Regions from separate parts of the Homo sapiens genome. Here all the other regions are linked to region 1. Evidence: fine-mapped expression QTL. A gene starts in region 1. Each other region holds a variant in brackets. All regions are shown on one strand. Distances are between the middles of the regions. Region 1 holds the start of FHL1 (four and a half LIM domains 1). Region 2 has its middle 75 kb from the start of FHL1. Region 3 has its middle 38 kb from the start of FHL1.

Region 1 (4,280 bases):
GAAAGTATTTGGCACACCAAGCCTATTGTTCACAGCGCTGCAAGAGAGGCATTTCAACATACATGGGCTCTTCCTAAAAATATAACTTGCTAAAATAAAAAATTCAGGGTTCATTAAGGTTAATCATCTAATAAAGTAAGAGAATTTCCTCTAGGTGAAAAGTTTCAGTTTATTTTAGGGGTGTGGTGTTGTTACAACTGGCTAATCTCCGCACCATAATTTAATCAGGCTGGATGAGAAAGAGACTAGAAAGGCGTGGAGCCAGAGCACAGTGTAGCTTCTCTTCTTTTCCCAGGCTTATTTTTTTCCTCTAACATGTAATAAATTTACTCGTAACAACCTGGCTTTTATTGTGTCATTTTCTAGCTAACTGGGAGTTACTGATGTCAGTTGTCTTTTAGAATAACTTTTCCTTAAACATTTGAAGATCGTAAGAATTGGGGAACTCATTCATTCATTTATTCATGGAGCATTTACTGCTCACCTACTGTGTGCTATAGGAACATGAAGACAAGCAAAGCACTGCCCTGGCCCTCAACCTGGTAGGGGAGATGTGTGAATAGGGCCAAAACCACTTAAACAAGACAGTGGCTATAAAGGTGTCTGTACCAGCGAGAAGGTCAGCTGCCTTCCTTGAAGTTGAGTGGCCAAAACCACTTTCAGGATTGCAGGTGGGACTATGTTTTGGAGGCTTGATGGATTTTTCAGTTATTTAGTTCATTCTTTCAAGGAATAGTTATTGAGAGCCTCCTGGGAGCTGGGCAGTGTTCTAGGCTCTGGGGCCACTGCAGTGAGCTCCAGTACTAAATCCCTGCCTTCATGGAGCAAAGCAGGAGATCAGACAGCAAGGAGAGAAATCAGTGCAATACCAGCAGACTTGAAGTAGGGAAAGGAACAACCATGACTCTGGGCACAGGGGACAGTGAGGAGGCCAGTGAGGTGGGAGTGAGGGAAAGGGGGCTAAGGGTAAGGCCAGAGAAGGAATGTGGAAGAAGGTCCTGGAGGGACTTGGGGGCTTTCTTTTCCTAGAACATGCTCCTAATAGCCAGCCCCCAGACATCTGATGGCCTGTTGAGCTATTACAACATTTTAGGTTGATGTCTTCATTTTCATTCATGTTTTTCCTTTTATTGTCCCTGATGCTGAAAAACAAGAGGTTGAGTTTGTGAGACAAAATGTCTTCATTGTGTGTGTGATGGGGATAGGCATAGTCTCCCCATCTTGTTCTGTGCTGTCTGCCGTTAAGGAGGTGGGGAGATTACGATCACTCTCCTTTCCTGTACAGTAATCTGCTGATCTCTGGAACATACTAAGGAGGACATAGAGTGACAACATCTATAATCCCCTTAATCTCTATATTCATACTGTCTAATCTCCTTGAGTTACACTGGTAACATAAGTCTATCTCTTAGAGTTACTTTTATCATTAACAGCACAAAAATGTATTATTTACAGGGCCAAATGCAAGCTCTTGAGGCATATAAAGTGGATTAATAAGGTTGGCTCAGCGTTAAGCTATGCCAGAGCCGAGTCCAAATTTTATTCCGGTACAGGGATGACTTTCTATGTGGCCTCTCTGGCTCTGGAGCTAATTTGGATGCTGAGTAGCCCCGCAGGTATTTATATGTAGCGTTTGGTATTTTTACTGGGTCCTATTCTTCTCCCTTGGATCACCTAAAATGGTTAAGAATTTTCTAGTGGGATTAAGGTTGTGATCTCTGGGGAGGGGTGGGACATCTGCTCTCGGTTATTTTTGTGTTAGCCGCTTCCCCTTAAATGTATGTTCACAAATGAGCCACAGCCTTATCAGCTGGGGTTGAGGGAAGACTGGTCTAGGTGCTGCTCCTGAACTTGGTCTCTGAGCCATGGCTTCCCATAGACACTCAGGTAAAACTTCATGCTCTTTATCTTATATTGAGCACAGTTTTGTTAGGGCAGTGAATCCGTCATTGGGCTAAAAGATGGTTTTTGATGAAATGATTTTAGTCTTGTCTGAATAGTAAATAAATTATAGCTTGTCTCTGTTTTGCCTTTGCCTTTCATGCTATTTCAAAGACAAAATATTGTTCAAGTACAATGAACAGTTTGAGTGATTTATTTTAAAAAGAAGTATATAAACATGTTACCACTATATTTTTACCTTTTTCAGGACATCTCATGAAACTATAAGAGATTGTGGGAGGAAAGGTTTTTCTGGTTAGGAATTTTTGGCTTTCTTTTTTATAAGATACAATTCTTCATCTTGACAGTGCTTTACATCCAAGGTGTTTGGAGAAGGTAAATCGAATGTGGAGCTGAAAGGAGGAACATTTGTAACTAAGAAAGTCCATAATGACCTAGCACATCTTCCCTTTTGCTGACAATGTTTTAAATCTTCCCGAAGTAACAGCTATGTTCCTTTTGATATGCTAAGTATGTTATTAATTGTTTTTAGCAGAAAAAGGGGCACATTTTGGACTCCTTGGGACATGAGCATTTTCTTCTGGTTTTGTAACCTTACAATTAAGGAAGCCCTTTGGCCATCGACAAGAAATCTATGAACTAGGGGCTGAGGGGCCAAAAGCCCAGTTATTTGAAGCCAGGAGGGTGGCTGTGGCCCTGTGGCCCTCTGCCTAAGTAACGGTTCCCTTTCTTGGGGCTGGTAAAGTCAGACGGTTAGATATAAAGAAGGCACTTCATCCTGTCTCCCAGCTTTCAGATTAAGGGATGTCATTATCTATGTTTTTTTTTTTTTTTGAAAAATCATTTTTTAAAACTCATTGCCTGTCAATATTTAAACAATGGAAATACTTTAGGAAATTTCTCTTTTTGGGGTTTTAAATATGCTGCAATGGAATGCCCTACCTTAATGAATTAATATGTAATGTCTTCCCTGTTCCCAAGTGTTCAAAAGTTGTCTGGTTTTTTTTTTTTTCCAACCCTCAGGAGCTGTTTCACAAACATGGTACCAAATGCTTGAGATTGTGGTTATCAGCCAAGATACACATTCTCTGGGTGTAGGCAAACTAGTCAGCTGTGCTAGTTGTCCTGATGAACCTTAAATGCATGTTACCTGGTAGAATAACTCTCATTTTGTTTACTAATTAAGTGACAGAATAGTGACAGAAAGTTTAAAAGTTTAAATAGTGACAGAAAGTTTATAGCATACCCAACCTTGGGTTTTAAATTGCACCAAATTCTTATGTCGTTCTTGTGTATGTAAGTCTGGAGGCTCTAATAACTGTGGCTAAATGGGACCAATTATTTATACCTTTTAGATGATTTTTGAATTCAGGAAATTGCATTTTGTATTGCATTAGGTTAATAGATTCATGAAAGCAGAGAAGAATCAGTCCATGAGACAGAGAAGTCCTCATAGAAAATCAGTGTTGCCCTGAAACGGGCTCAGTATGGGCAAAATAGAAGCTAGGATAATTGGATCCAAATCCATTTTTAGTGACTATCCATATACTGAGAGGACATTTCAAGGACAAAAACAATGTATACTCTTGACATTGAAGACTTTCTGTCTGCAAAATTATGTAGATTCAATTTCTTTAGCCTTTGGCCTTTCAAGTCGAAAACCAGGTTTGGGGTGTGGAGGGGGATCAGGTCACTTGCCATATTACACAGCCATCGATTCCCTTCACCAGCTGCTGCTCAGTGGGCCGCACAAGCCCGCCAGTCTTTTCTCAGGGCAGGGATGGAAAATGAGAGGGTAGGATGAGAGGAAAGTAATCCAACTGGATTGGCTTCTTAAAATACAGAAGATTTGAGTGAGAGTGAAACTGAACATTTTGTGCTTTTGATGACCACCAAATGACTACCTACTACTTCACCACAGCTGGAGAAACTAAAAACACATGCTCTTTTGCTGCCGGGTCAGAAATGCTTTTTTTCCCATATGAAAGAGGGGCTGTGTTGCACGTAATCTGTGCAACATTATGAAAAATCTTCATATACAGACAAAATGGTACTAGAATTGAATCTGGACTGCAGGAAGTTCAGTGGCACATAATTTTTCTTTTAATAATCTATATCGAACCCTCCTGACACCCGATATAATCTAAAATGGCATTAGTTATACATCAGTGACCCAAAAAAGATTTGTTTTTTTTCTAAATGCAGCATACCAGTGAAGTTGCTAATTACATTGAATCATTCTGTACACGTTCTATTTTGAAGGGAAAAAACACTTTCTGATTTTTGTATGAAATTGTATGAAAGACTACTTTTCAGCCGTGACTCATGAGCTCCGTCTCATTGCAGCTACTTAGGTATTTATTCCCAAATGTCTGACG
Region 2 (4,280 bases), 76 kb before region 1:
ACCTGTCAAAGTCCCGCTACCCTCCAAAGCCCCAAAAGGTACTTCCTCCATTAAGAATTGACTTTATTCTCATCATAACTTTTGGTGCCTCCTTGGGCTCAGTCTTGGCTTTCTTCCATGTGTTCTAGTTATTGATACACAGAACCGTACTATAAACTCTGAGACAGTAGTGATATAAAATTTTGTTTTGGCTCCAATGGCACCTAGCACAGTGCATGGCATATAGTAGGTACTCTACCAATGCCTGTGAAATAAATACATCTTACATTTCTGTAAGTGTGGAAGAATACCATCACATTTTAACAGCTTTATTGAGATATCATTCAAATACCGGACAATTCACCCATTTAAAAGGTACAGTTAGGCCAGGAGTGGCGGCTCATGCCTGACACCCTGAACTTTGGGAGGCCAAGGTGGGGAATCACTTGAGCCCAGGAGATCAAGACTATCCTGGGCAACATAGTGAGACTCCATCTCTACAAAAATCAACAAAATTAGCCAGGCATGGTGGTACACACCTGTGGTGGCCCCAGCTACAAGGGAGGCTGAGGTGGGAGGATTGCTTGAGCTGAGGAGTTTGAAGCTGCAGTGAATTATGATCATGCTACTGTACTCCAATCTGGGTGACAGAGTGAGACTCCTCAATAAATAAATAAATAAATAACATACAGTTCAATGGTTTTTAGTATTCATAGAATTGTGCAACCATCACCAAAATCAATTTTGAACATTTCCATCACCCCAAAAGAAACTCTGTAGCCATTAGTAGGCATTCCCTATTTCCTACCAACTCTCTAGCCCTAGGTAAACAATAATCTATCTTCTGTATCTACAAATTAGCTTACCTAGTTATTTCACATAAATGGAACCATAAATATGTAAGTTTTTAACGACTGGCTTCTTTCGCTTAGCATAATGTTTTCAAGGTTCACCCATGTTGTAGCTTGTATCAGTACTTCATTCCTTTTGCACTTGGAGATCCAGGTATCCCAGAATTTGTTGAAGAGGCTATTCTTTCTTTCCGCATTGAATGGACTTGGCATCCATGTTGAAATCAGTTGATCATAGACTTATTGGTTCATTTTTTGACTCTTAATTCTATTCCATTGTTCTATATGTCTATCCTTATTCCAATAGCACACTGTTTTGATTACTGTAGCTTTGTGGTAAGTTTTGATATTTGGAAGTATGAGTTCTCCAACTTCATTTTTCTTTTTCAATATTGTTTTGGCCATTCAGGGCCCCTCGTAATTCCAAATGAATTTGAGGATTGGCTTTGCCATTTCTGCAAAAACTGCTATTGGAATTTTGATAGGGATTGTATTAAATTATGAATCAGCTTGGGGAATATTGGCATCTTAACAATATTAAATCTTTTGCACCATGAACATGGAACATGTTTCCATTTATTTAGGTCTTCTTTAGTTTCTTTGCATGATGTTTTGTACTTTTCAGAATAGAAGTTTTGCATCTCTTTTGTTAAATTTATTTCTAAGTAATTTACTCTTTTTGATACTATTGTAAACTGAAGTGTTTTCTTAATTTTATTTTCAGATTGTTACTATAACATTTTGAATAAGATACAAAAAATCACCATGATCAATCAAAGTTTAAAATCAAAGGTTGTTAATATATATTTTTAGGTTGTTGTTTCAGGGCTTCCTGTGTTTTACAATGTCCAGCACAGTAACAAGGCTTTAAAAAATTATCACATTAGTATGTTTTGGTAATGTGGAAACAATTGACCTCACTAATGGATTTAAGATTATCATAAAAATTCTAAGCCAATACTATCATATCTGAGAAAAGTTAATGTGAAACTGTTTACTTTGGTTGTTCCAGAAACCTGTCTTCTAATAGTTAAAGTATTTAATATGCTCCTTGGGTGACTGGCTATTTCCATAATTATAGTTCTTTCTCTAAAAAACGTGGAAAATTCTTGGGTGTTGGCATTAAATGTCTTGTTTTCTTTAATGAACTGAAAATCAGATCCAATCAGATTAAAATTTTCTCAAGGACCAAGATCTGGACTCTGCAGTTAATGTTCTGGATGAGTTTTGTTTTTTGCAGTAGACATAAATTCACACCAACTCCTCACCTAGAGAAGTCAGTCCCTCCGTTTCTCTATTTTTCCCTTAAGACATCACACTTAGCATAGTCCTCTCTCTTTGAATTGCTGGTTCTCCTTGCTTTATGCCTAATTAAATAATAAACAACTTTATCAAAATATCTAGTATGTTATTGGCCAGAAATCAAGTATACAGTGAACATTTATTTTACTTGAAACAATATTTTTTATCTTAAAAAAGGTTTTTATG[C/T]TAGTCAGGGTTTTAGAATGTTTACCCAGATGTTGTGTCAACTTTTAAAAAGAAATTTCATAGACGGGAGGCATTTGAGAAGTTGGAAAGGACCTTAGAAATCCAGCACAGGGGTCTGTGAGCCAAGTTCAGCCTGTAGGCATGTTTTACTTGGCCCTGGTGGTATTTTAAAACTATTTAAATTAGTTGCCAACATTTACAAGTCATAAAAATCTGGATTTCTGCCTTTTCTTGAAAAAGTGGGTAAACCTGGCCATCTCAGGGCTACACTGCAGCATGGCACATACTGGGTGCATATGCACTCCATCCAGTTTCTCAGGGTCCTCCTGTAGGCTCACTTCCATCAGTTGCATGACCTGCTGACCCTGGGGGAGGCCCCTTTGCATCTGTGACTCCTGAGCTAACGTAATCCCCTTCTGAGGTTTTGAGACTGAGGTTTGGAAAAATCATTACTGCCCAAAGCTAGTCAACAGCTAATCAGTTGTCAATTTCTTTTCTTTTCTTTTTTTAATATTTATTTATTTATTTATTTATTTATTTATTTATTTATTTATTATGTATTTATTTATTCATTCATTTATTCATTTATTTTGAGATAGGGTCTCACTCTGTTGCCCAGGCTGGAGTGCAGTGGTGCTGTTACAGCTCATTGCAGCCTCGACCTCCCCAGGCTCTGGTGATCCTCCCACTTCAGCCTCCTGAGTAGCTGGGACTACAGGCATGTGCCACTATGCCTGGCTAATTTGTGTGTGTGTGTGTGTGGCGAAAGGGTTTCGTTTCTCCCTGTTACCCAGGCTGGTTGCAAACTCCTGGGCTCAAGCCATCCATCTGCCTCAGCCTCTCAGTGCTGGGAATATAGGCATAAGCCACCTTGCCCGGCCTAGTTGTCAATTTCTTAATAATGCCAAGAGTATTATTTATAAAACAGATAAAGTTAGAGGAGGGCTAATTATTCTACATTTTCAAAGGACTTTCTTGCTTGAATGGCATCCCCATTGATGTAGTTAGGCTTTTAAAATATAATGAACTGACGGAGGATCCAGGGAAGAGCCACAGCAAATCAGAGTGATTATACCTAAAAACAATAAAATGTGTTCTGAATCATCATCGTTTCAATCTATCTCCCAGTTTATATCTGACCTCCTCTTTAAAATTTTCTTTCTTGTCTTTCTTTTGTTTCTCTCCTCTTCTTCCAAACCCTATGATTTATTTATGTATCTGGGTCACAACTAAGTTAGTCCTTAATCATCTGTTCATTCATTAAATATTTATTTCAACACTTACTAGCTGCCAGGTGCTGTTCTGGTCACTTGGGATAGCACAGTGAACAAAAGGGACAAAAATTCCTTGCGCCACTTACATGCTAGTGGGAGAATGAGATGATAAGTAAACAAAGAAGATCATTTCTGATAGTTATAGGCACTCCGAAGGTGTAAAAACAGGACAATGTGACAGCTGGGGTTGGGGTCTATGAAGCCAGCCATATCAAAGTGTGGGGAAGAGTGATGTAGGCTGAGAGGAAAACAAGCACAATGGCCCTGAAATGGAAACAAGCTTCGTGTGTTCAATGAAGGGACAGGCTAATTGGTAGGAGCTGAGATGGGGGAGGGGGGCAAGGGACAGGCATGCAGGGCCTTGCAGGCCATGGACATAGGTTTAGATTTTATTCCGCATTAGGAGCCCTTGGAGGGGTTTCCTTTATATTGGCCATGACTTATACAGTTGTCTCGCTCTTGATATCCATGGGAGATTGGTTCCAGGACCACTCACTGGTGAACACCAAAATCCACAGGTATAATCCCTGATAGAAAATGTTGCAGTATTCACATATCACCTATGCACATCCTGCCGTATACTTTAAATCATCTCTAGATTACTTATCACACTTATTACAATGCAAATGTTATGTAAAAGGTTATTATATTGCATTTTTAAATTTTGTATTTTTTTTGTTGTATTATT
Region 3 (4,178 bases), 39 kb before region 1:
TCTGTAGACTTTCTAATAACAAGAATTTGTAACAGTCACAAGGTTTTAAATTTCCTTTTCAGTACTAAGGAAATGATAGCTGGGAATGCAAAGGCTTTATTGGCAAGATTGTTTTGACAAGGATGGCACAAAACTAAATTTCTATACTTGATTAATTTATAAGTCTTGTCACTCACTTTTAGTTTTAGAGTGTGGATAAAGCTGTTTGATTCTTGTCAGATTTGAAATGTATGATTTATGAGACATTAAGGATTGGTTTTTCAGTGCACTCTGCCAGGTCTAGTTTTATGCGTCATTCTGGTTTGGGAAGCTGAGTGCAAGTCTGCCTACAGACATAATCAATCACCTGCACTTTCGGGTGGCCAGGTGGACTGAAGTAACAGGTTTCCCCCCAGGTTTCTCAGAGACTAAGGAATACACACACACACACACACACACACACACACATAGGCAGACCTGCAAATTATCGGTCCAAAAATATTTATATCACTAAGCCAGAGCAGTGGATTTAGACATTTGACTTAACAAAATTTGTTTTTCAACACGTTCTAGCAACTACCCTGTAAATGATCGTCATTTCACCTACAACAATGAAAAGATAAAGTCCTCAGCCGCATAGCTTCTAGAGGCTAAAGAGGCACGTTAAGTTGCTTGTCAAAGACTCCACACCTTCAGATGCCAGGGTCAACACAAGTTTTCAAACCCTAGACCCAATCCCTTCTAGGCCACAGAAGGTCTGCCTCTTGTAAGGAAGGAATTTTCCAATGCACTAAGCACAGCTAATCACACTAAGGAAAGAAACCAAGCAGCCAAACTAATATGAGGAAGTGAAAGTTTATACTTGCATCTTATAGCAGATGGCCTTTGTTAGAGCCACTTTTAAAATATCAACTTCACCGAGCATGATTTAGGTACAAAAACCGGCATCCAATTAAAGCCTCCAATTTGATGAGTTTAGACAGATGTATATACCCATGAAACCACTGCCCCAATCAGGATGTGGAATGTTTTTATCACCTCCACAAGTTTATCCTTGCCCCTTTTCCAGTAACATTCTTCCCCCAGCCCCTTTCCCCCAGATATCCCGTTATGCTTTTGTGTGAGAGCCACTTTCAAAACTCAGATTTGAAAGTTTGTGGATCTTCCTCTATAAAAAGACTATATTTATGTCCAAAATGCAATTGTCTTCTCTATGTTTAAAATAATACTACAGAGAAATTCTAGGTATTGATTTCCTAGAATCTTTCCCTCATCCTCTGCAAGTAAGCTACTTAGTAAATAGTTTCATTATGTACTTGAATTGAAGAGAAATTACAGCCAAGAGAAAAACAATTCTGATAGACAGAAAAGCAGTGTATGTTCTTCTCAAGTAGTTACAGTGAGGTGTTAAATCCCTCAAGAACCAGAGAAGTAAAATTTGAATTTTGCTTCGTACTTATTTGTAAAGTAAAAATGAAGACTGAGAATAAAGGTTTTATATGTATCTATCTGTCTAATCATTCATCCATCCACCCATCCCTCCAGCTAGTGTGTGTATATATGTTTCTGTATAAAATTACTATGTATTAATAACCCTATCCCTTGAGGATTACAAAAGATTTGAAGGCTTCAGAGGGAATTTTCTGTGCATGAAAGGTGTACTGTCTTTACACACTTAGGTGCAAAGCAAGCTTTTC[A/G]TATGCTGTTATTACTCTCATTGATATATTTAATTGAACTAATAATTATTGAGCAATTTAAAGGCTGCTGCATTGAGATGGAGTTTGTCCCTTCGTTTGTCACCTTCTAGAAAAATCCAAGTGTCAAAAAATATCTCGCTGGCTCTCTGTTCTGTTGCTATTACTTCGGCATGCGTCGTCTCCTCTTGCCACTCTCGATTTCTACTGTTTCTGCCCTATCTTCCTTCCCTGATTTTCCTCCTCCATGTCTTTCCCGTATCCTGATGCCACTTCTCTTGCACTGCTCTGATTTCTCATGAGAAAGCCATTTTTATAAACATCTCCAGACCGAGAGGGCAGCAGACTAATTCCAATGTGTCAGATAGCATCTTGGAGGCTGTTTCTCCTGTGATCCAACACTTTTTTCACACTCCTTTCCAGTTTCGAGCTGTACTGGAAATTGGAGAGTTGTGAAAGGATGGTTTTTGGATAATCAAAGTTGAATATACTTGCTGGGCTGTGTTATGACCGTCTTTGAAGCCACGAATCATTAAAAATAAGTGAATAGTTTACATTATAATATTCCTAGGAAACTTCCTTTGATAATTGTAAAGCAATTAAAATTGTCCTGAGATAAGGTGATTTATTGTTTTTCAGAATGGGCCATAAAGATATTAAAGAACCCATTCAACATTTGTCAAAACCCATAAAATGCACAACGCAATGAATGAACCCTAATGTAAACCCTAGACTTTAGTTCATTATAATGTATTAACGTTGGCCCATCAATTGGGACAAATGTACCACATCAATACAAGATATTAATAATAGGGGAAACTGGGAGATGGATGCTAAGGAGGTATACAGAAACTCAGTACTTCCTGCTTAGTTTTTCTGTAAACCTAAAACTGCTAAAAAAAAAAAAAGTCTACTAATTAAAAAAAAAAACTCTTCAAATGTATGGGTTTCAGAAATACAAAGACTAGATCAGGAGCTTTTTATTATTACCGTGTGGATTAAAGTCTACTGTTTGTGGCCAGGTACAGTGGCTCATGCCTGTAATCCCAGCAATCTGGGAGGCTGAGGTGGGTGGATCACTTAAGGCCAGGAGTTTGAGACCAGCCTGGCCAACATGATGAAACCCTGTCTCTACTGAAAATACAAAAATTAGCCGGGTGTGGTGGCATGTGCCTGTATTCCCAGCTATTCGGGTGGTTGAGGTGGGAGAATCACTTAAACGCGGGAGGCAGAGGTTGCGGTGAACCGAGATCACGCCACTGTACTCCAACCTGGGAGACAGAGTGAGACCCTGTCTTAAATAAATACATAAATAAATAAATAAATTCCAGTGTTTGTTTTTCAGAATGAGTGAAATAAGAGATGTGTTTCTCCTTGAGTGATGTAACTTGTGGCACGAGCCCCTGAAAAGGGGAAGTATGAGGTTCCAGGAGAGCTGCCCAGTACCTCCAATGCTATGTCTAGTTGCACAATAGTCAGTAGATAGGTCAGTGGGAGCAGTGGGTTGGGACTTCGCTTGCCACCCTTGAAACATCATGCCATCTTTGCAGTGGAGTCCCAGATTTGGCAAATTCCCTGCCCTACAACCCAGTGGGCCCTCTTTTGACCCTTGCATTTGTGGTATCATTAGCAACAGTGACAGTTGGTGAACTTATGCCAACTCTGAGCCAATATCCAGGTCAGAGTTTGATTGCTTTGGGCCAAAGGCTATTATTGCATGGCTTGTAGAAGCATAGGCCCAATGCCAGAACTTCCATGCACTTACTCAGTATGGCCAGCTCTACAGTAAACGTGTGTGAAAAGATTCGGTTTTTATAGGCATTAATGTAAATAGTTTCTTTATATTGGACCTGGGTAACTATGATGGGCAATTACAAGTACCCATTGCTTTCCTGAGTTGGCTATGAGAACAGAACATTCTGTGGTACGTGGTAGTGGGGGTGAGGGGAGGATCAGGTCTAAGAGGGACATTGCAGCTGCAAAGGGAAAGAAAAAAACTGAGAAGCCATCAAGGATTAGAAGGCAAATGGGAGCCATCACTCAAGCACTGTGTATCTTGAAGTGGTTGTCTGTCAGGTCTGTGATAAGACCTGGGGTGAAAAACCTCATAGTTCATGTGATTATCTGAAAAATACCAATAAAGGGAAGAGTTGATTATAGAGTTCGCCTGTTTAGTTTTTTTGTTTGTTTGTTTGTTTTTTTTGAAACTGTGTCTTGCTCTGTCACACAGGCTGGAAAACAGTGACGATCGTGGCTCACTGCAGTCTTGACCTCCTGGGCGCAAACAATCCCTCTGCTTCAGCCTCCTGAGTAGCTGGGACTGCAGGTGTGCATCACCACACCCATCTAATGTTTTAGTTTCGTAGAGGCAGGGTCTCGCTATATTGTCCAGGCTGGTCTCAAACTCATGGCTTGTTTAGCTTATTAAACTTTATTTTGTATATTGGAAATAATTCTTTGTGTACAGATCTGTTAGGTGTCCTCATTGTTACATCTATTGTTAGA

What was found. PIP is the estimated chance that this variant, and not a neighbour inherited with it, causes the effect.
Region 2: its variant is the best candidate, but not a certain one, in a credible set for the expression of FHL1 in aorta (GTEx, PIP 0.54).
Region 3: its variant is the best candidate, but not a certain one, in a credible set for the expression of FHL1 in blood mononuclear cells (TOPMed, PIP 0.60).

The regions. Positions count from the first base shown.
Region 1 is chrX:136,195,248-136,199,527 of GRCh38, forward strand. FHL1 (four and a half LIM domains 1) reads left to right here and starts at 1,800. Exons shown (of 6, transcript NM_001159699.2): 1 at 1,800-1,887. The coding sequence starts at 1,866.
Region 2 is chrX:136,119,552-136,123,831 of GRCh38, forward strand. No RefSeq gene overlaps it. Among named protein-coding and RNA genes, the nearest start is that of FHL1, 75 kb to the right of the region's middle. The variant C/T (reference allele first, on the strand shown) is at 2,319.
Region 3 is chrX:136,156,571-136,160,748 of GRCh38, forward strand. It overlaps a transcript of FHL1 not described here. Among named protein-coding and RNA genes, the nearest start is that of FHL1, 38 kb to the right of the region's middle. The variant A/G (reference allele first, on the strand shown) is at 1,677.